Linked DNA regions of Homo sapiens: region 2 is linked to region 1. Evidence: fine-mapped expression QTL. A gene starts in region 1. The other region holds a variant in brackets. All regions are shown on one strand. Distances are from middle to middle. Region 1 holds the start of CA3 (carbonic anhydrase 3). Region 2 overlaps CA1 (carbonic anhydrase 1).

Region 1 (2,915 bases):
CTGGGGAATGACTCCCCTGGCGTCCAGGTTATGAGTGTGGTCAGTCATTCCACATGCCTTAGGGATGAGCTATCTGTGCCATGACGAGCGATTTCCTTTTCGAGTTTTGTAATCCCCAAATACTAAATACTATTATCAATAAAAGTTAATTAAGGAAATGTATATCGAAATATTGTTCAAGATAGCACTGAAATTAGGTTTATCTTTCCTCATTGTCTTAAAAAATTATTACTGAATTAAAACAGGAGAAATTTTACAATATACTCTTAAAATTGTAAATATCTACTACTGACCTCTTTGATATGAACCATAACCAGACATTTAAAAATATACTTTTGTCATGTAGACACACTAGATATGCCACTTTTATTCTCCTTTGCATGGTTCAATGTATAAGAAAACAACTTAGTAGGGGGAGAAAAAAATTAAAAGCCATTCTGTAAATCTTTCCCTCTTTCTTTTCTTGCAATCTCTCATTGTATCTTGGAGAGCAAGACCACAGGTTTTAAGAAATATGACTCATTTTATGTTAGTGGCCTTCCAATACTTCAGAATATTCTTGATTTTTCATGAACAGAGGTACAGCTCAGGGAGTGTGGCTAAATCAGTCCCAGTCTCCAGCTCCGCGTGAACCTGGGATCCAGACATCTCCTGGATATCTGGCGCTCTCTGAGATCCAGCCCTCGGTTTCCTGCAAGCCAAAAGGATCCGCTAGGTTGGGAAATGCCGCCTGGTGCGATTCCAGAAAGGGCCATCTCTTTAAGGATAACGGACTTGGAGGGCCTCTTCACCCTCTCACCCTGCTCCGGACCCTTTCTTCCCATCCTTTGCTCCTAGGATTTTACATGTTGCCTGCAAAGGGAGTCAAACTTAGGGGGCAGGCAAACAAACGAGTTCTTTCCAGCCTCTGTAACCGGATCGCTAGAGCGAAATAAACTCGCACAAGTGTCCAGAGATCGTAGCCAGACAGCCAGCCTGCGCTTGAAGCAACTTTTAAGTGAGGCTGCAAGAGCCGCCGGGATGTAGATTTTAGTTCGTGGCCAAGCACAACTACGACACCCTGTCCCTGCCCCCACCCCATCCCCAAGAATGCATGGAGGAAGGAGAGAGGACGAGGTGAGGGCCGCCTGCATTTCTGCACGTCGGCGCCGGTTAGAAACCCTGCAGTTTTGAGAGAGAAGAAGAGGAGATGGAGGGGCCAGGAGCCACGACTCCCGGGAGAGCGCAGGGAGGGGCGTGGGTGCCCCTTCGCCCACCTCCGCCCCCGTCACCTCGACAGCTGTCCCGCTCTTGGAATTCATTGGCTTCCTCTACCCGGCCTCCCAAACACCACCCCAATCTAGTTTAGCCCCCCGCCCCACCCTCGCTGACCTAATAAGGCCATGCAGTGTGCGGGGGAGCTACATAAAAGCGCGGGCTCGCGGCGACTCTGCACCACGCAGGGGAAGAGAAAGCAGGAGCCGTCCAGCACGGAGGAAGGCGACCATGGCCAAGGAGTGGGGCTACGCCAGTCACAACGGTGAGTGCAGGCAGCCGCGACCCGGCCAGGAAGGGATGCCAGTCCAGGAGAGCCCTGCCATTGCACAGAAATGGGCAACTTTAGAGACTGCAGTGGAAAATGTAGGAGTAGAATAAGACCTAACATTTACTGAGGCTTTTCAACTGCCAAATGCTGCTGCTTCTTTTTTTCCTTCATCTCATTTGGTTCTCCCTAGTATGGAGTTTTTATTTCCCTTGGAGAAAACTGAAGTGCAGAGAAGTTGGATCACTTGCCTAAGATCCCATTGCCTCTGAGAAGTCAGACAGCCCGAGGTCAGGTGTGACTGGCCCTTATTCTGTTTTACTGGACAAGCACCTAACCTGAGCTTGGTGCCGGTGTGAGAATCTCTGCTCTGCCTAAGCTTCTCCCTAATCCAAGGCAAAGGAACATGGGTGTGCTCTGAAACCCACAACACAATGCTCAAATGTAGGTGGTCAATATTATTTTATTCCAACTCTATGATGGAAGGTGTCATTGGTTAAAAAAAAATGTGATAAAGTTTATCTGAAAAATAAGCCTTTGAGCAGGCAGAGTGAACACACTGAGTTAAATAGTCTCCATGTGTGCTATTCACAAAACTACCAACAGGCCTGAAATGAATGCTAAGTCTCTTATTGCCCAGTCTGAAACCTAAGACCTTTTTGAAATCACTGTCTAGCCTCTCTGTATTTTGCTGGTTTAGTCAATTAGAAAGAGGCCTTGGGTTGTGCCACCAAATAAATACATCTCCTCGACTTTATTTCCTAGGTCCTGACCACTGGCATGAACTTTTCCCAAATGCCAAGGGGGAAAACCAGTCGCCCGTTGAGCTGCATACTAAAGACATCAGGCATGACCCTTCTCTGCAGCCATGGTCTGTGTCTTATGATGGTGGCTCTGCCAAGACCATCCTGAATAATGGGAAGACCTGCCGAGTTGTATTTGATGATACTTATGATAGGTCAAGTAAGTATGACAATGAGGTAGAATCACATGGATGTTTTCAAGGTCCATATTGACAAAATGTGGTTTATGACACAGTACCAGAATTAATGGGGAGAGGGAGCACTTTATCTTTTAAAATGCAGATGACATTTGACTTTGCTTTAGTCATGAATAATTATATTTATGTATTGAAGAGGAATGTCACACCCTCCAAACTTGGTCTCTGTGAAAACGGCCCCATGTCCAAGCTAAAAGTTGGCAATGCATTCCTGAAATGGAACACGATAGGACAGAGATGACAATAAACTCAAATGAGTATTCTTCAGACTCCGATGGCCTATACCTGAGGGTTCTTGTGCTTCTTGTCCATGGTCTGGAGAGCCAGGCTTCCACTCTCAATTGCATAGATTCCATTCTACAAAGCCAGATATACAATAGAAACCCTAAATAG
Region 2 (2,915 bases), 88 kb before region 1:
AAGGAATAAATGGAATGATTACAAGTGCTTTCTGATTTTTAAAAAATCTTTTTATTTTTAGCCTCTACACTAAGGACACAACAGGTGCTTTTAAAGAAAGAAATAGAAATAGTTTCTTTTAGAATAGCCCAATAGAATGAGACCATTTTACTCCTGTACTTTTTTTACTCACATGATCTTAATTTGTAACTTTTAAGAAGTTCGGAGGCTGAGAAAAACAAATATCAGTATTTCCATTTCAAAAGGAAGAAAGAGGCTTTCACAGATGAGAAAATTAAGCCACTTGTCCAAAGTCAGATGAAAGTGTTAAAAGTGGAATGTCAAGTCTTTAAACTCTGGGTCAAGAATTCTTCCCACTATGATAAATTATAAAATCAAACTAACAGTAACTTTTTTTCATTACTTTTTACTTTATTATCACAAAAGAGTTTAGTCGTGTGGGAAACTATTACCTCACAACAGTCATTGTAGTTTCCCTAAAACAGACCCTATAACTTTGGCTTGATTTTGTCCATGGGTGCTGGAGATGGGGTATGGACCACCATTATCTTTGGAGAGAATGCATGCTGCATGCTGTGGTTTTTGCATCTCCACAGCTAGCCTGCCCAGCTCATGAAGCTATCACATGCATCCCTACTGAGGCTCTTTCAGGGCCTACCATTTCCACATTTCTGTGGAGAGACCAAGCTACTTGTGATTTATGCTTCCTGATTCCAGTGTAGCTGGTGAATGCATATTCTACATTTCCACAAAAATCTACCTTATTTCTTCCAGTCCTAGGTGTAAAGGATCAGCCTACAGGATGGAACAAAATAGGTCCTCCTCCCTTCTATTTCTAGAATAGGGAGGAGAAAAAAGCAAAATTATTTATTAGGGTCTTCACAGCAAAATTTTAGAAAAGAATCCTGTCCTCTTACCTGAAGGCAAAATAGCAAGGTTTGAATGGAAATCCTTCCTGATCCTGTTTCCTTTATGCAAAAGGTTACTTGGGCAATTAATTTAGCTGGTCAAGGCCATGTCTTATTCTGAATTTCCTGTTTTACTTTCTAAAAAATTTTTTTTCAAGTTGCTCCAGGCAAATGAGAGTTACCTAAACATATACAATAAGCAGATTTCTAAGATGGGTTTAGCTCTAAGTAAGTGAAGAATTTTCAGGCCTCTTAAAGATGTTTGATATCACGTAACTCTTCTGTCCTCAGTGACTCCCACAGAAGGAGTGCAGGGCAGCTTCTCCTGTGGTTTCTTAGGGCTCTTTTAGCTTCTGGAATCAGAAAATTCTGGAGAGGCTGCTTAGGCAACAGTTTTCAAGTGTGACTTGAAAGGCGCTGCATTTCAAAACCCCAGGGTTATGAGTGAAGAGGTGTTGAATGAAAGGCTCTTAATTGCATCGCCTTGCACCTAGTTTATCTGGCCCTGTGATGGAGTTCCTTAATATGCAACACTTGGACATTGTAATAGTCCTAATTCCTTTAAGACTGTCCCGGACTCTGCCTTTAACTAGTTGGTAAAGTTCCACATAGCCTTTGTGCAACTGCCTGAGGGTTGCA[A/G]AATGAGGGGATGACATGTTGGCAAGTGCCTCAGTTTTCCATCATCACCCAGGAGGCAGCCAGAACTAGTCTGGTGAGAAAGAACTCCAGGAAAAACACCTCCCCAGGTTCGAGTCAATAACGCTTTTAAAATGGAGATCCACAGAGTCCAAAGGAGTTCTTATGGGCCTTATAGGCTAAGAACCAAGCTCAGTTAGAATGAAGCTTATGAATGTGGACTTCTTAGAACAAATAGGGCTGATTTTATGCAGTGATTCGATCTGGGGAAGATGAATTCTTGGCAATGTTCTCAATTCCTCCTATTGGTAATTCCTAGGGGTGCTTGCTAGCCAGGGTTCACGTTCGATGTTCTTACAATGCGATCTTTTGTCACTCCTGTCTCAGGCTCCAAGAGTCCTCATACAGTCCCCTGCAGAGTTGGACAGGATTTTACTGCGTGGTTGCTTGCAGCTGGCAACAGCTGTTGCTACACTTTTTTATCCACATTTATTTTTGTGTGTTAAGATTGTGTTTCTAGTCCTCCCCCAACTTCTGATACTACACACTTGCCAAATTGTTTGCTGATGAACATGATATTATTAGTAAAGGCCAGTGACTTCTTCCAAGGGAGCATTGACTGTTTATGTAGTGGCTTTATGTAGCCACTTCTGGGTATGGCACTCACTGTGCCATTTATTTTGGTTAATGTTTTTAAAAGACTCATTTTAACTTTAAAATCAGAGGTGGCGAATGAAACTTTGCTTAAGGATTCATGTCCCTAAAATGTAATGTTGGAGTAGTAAGGAAAAAAGGAATCATCTTTTAGCGGCAGCTAGGTATAATGAAGTTTGCAGAAAAGAAAAATAGGGTGTATTTCATTAGATCTAATATTGACAGCACTGCTCTAGCATGATGGACATGCCTTCTGTATGAGATGAGTATGACATCCACTCAAAAAACAGCCCAGTGGGGAAAGAAATGCCAGCAATAATAGATGTGACCTTTTAGTGCCTTGGCCATTGGCATCGCCTGAGGGTAATCCTAGATCACCCATTTTTCCATTTGGATGTAGCTGAGACTGACAGGGCAGGTGTCCGGCCTAAAGCAACTGATTTACTGATTTACGAGCAGCTTTCAGTCTCCTTCCTACTTGCCTCTTGCAAAGTGAACTTGAAAATCCAGTTCTTTTCACTACCTCTGTGGAAAACCTAGAGGCAAGCACAGGATTTATTCTTTGTTACTTGTAAGGCTGCTGTTGAAGTAATGCAAAGGTCGATGATTAAATGACATACCATAAAGATTTTTAGTACTGTTATTAAACCCAGTAGGATTAAAATGCAGCTACTGATGAAAGACTTGAACTGCAGTGTCTAGATGAAGCTAATTCCA

What was found.
Region 2: its variant is fine-mapped to the expression of CA3 in lung (TOPMed, PIP above 0.99).

The regions. Positions count from the first base shown.
Region 1 is chr8:85,437,425-85,440,339 of GRCh38, forward strand. It overlaps CA3 (carbonic anhydrase 3), which reads left to right and starts at 1,435. Exons shown (of 7, transcript NM_005181.4): 1 at 1,435-1,519; 2 at 2,288-2,485. The coding sequence starts at 1,486. RefSeq lists enhancers at 748-1,271, 1,272-1,794.
Region 2 is chr8:85,349,051-85,351,965 of GRCh38, forward strand. The region is part of intron 1 of CA1 (carbonic anhydrase 1); the gene reads right to left. Among named protein-coding and RNA genes, the nearest start is that of CA1, 28 kb to the right of the region's middle. The variant A/G (reference allele first, on the strand shown) is at 1,548.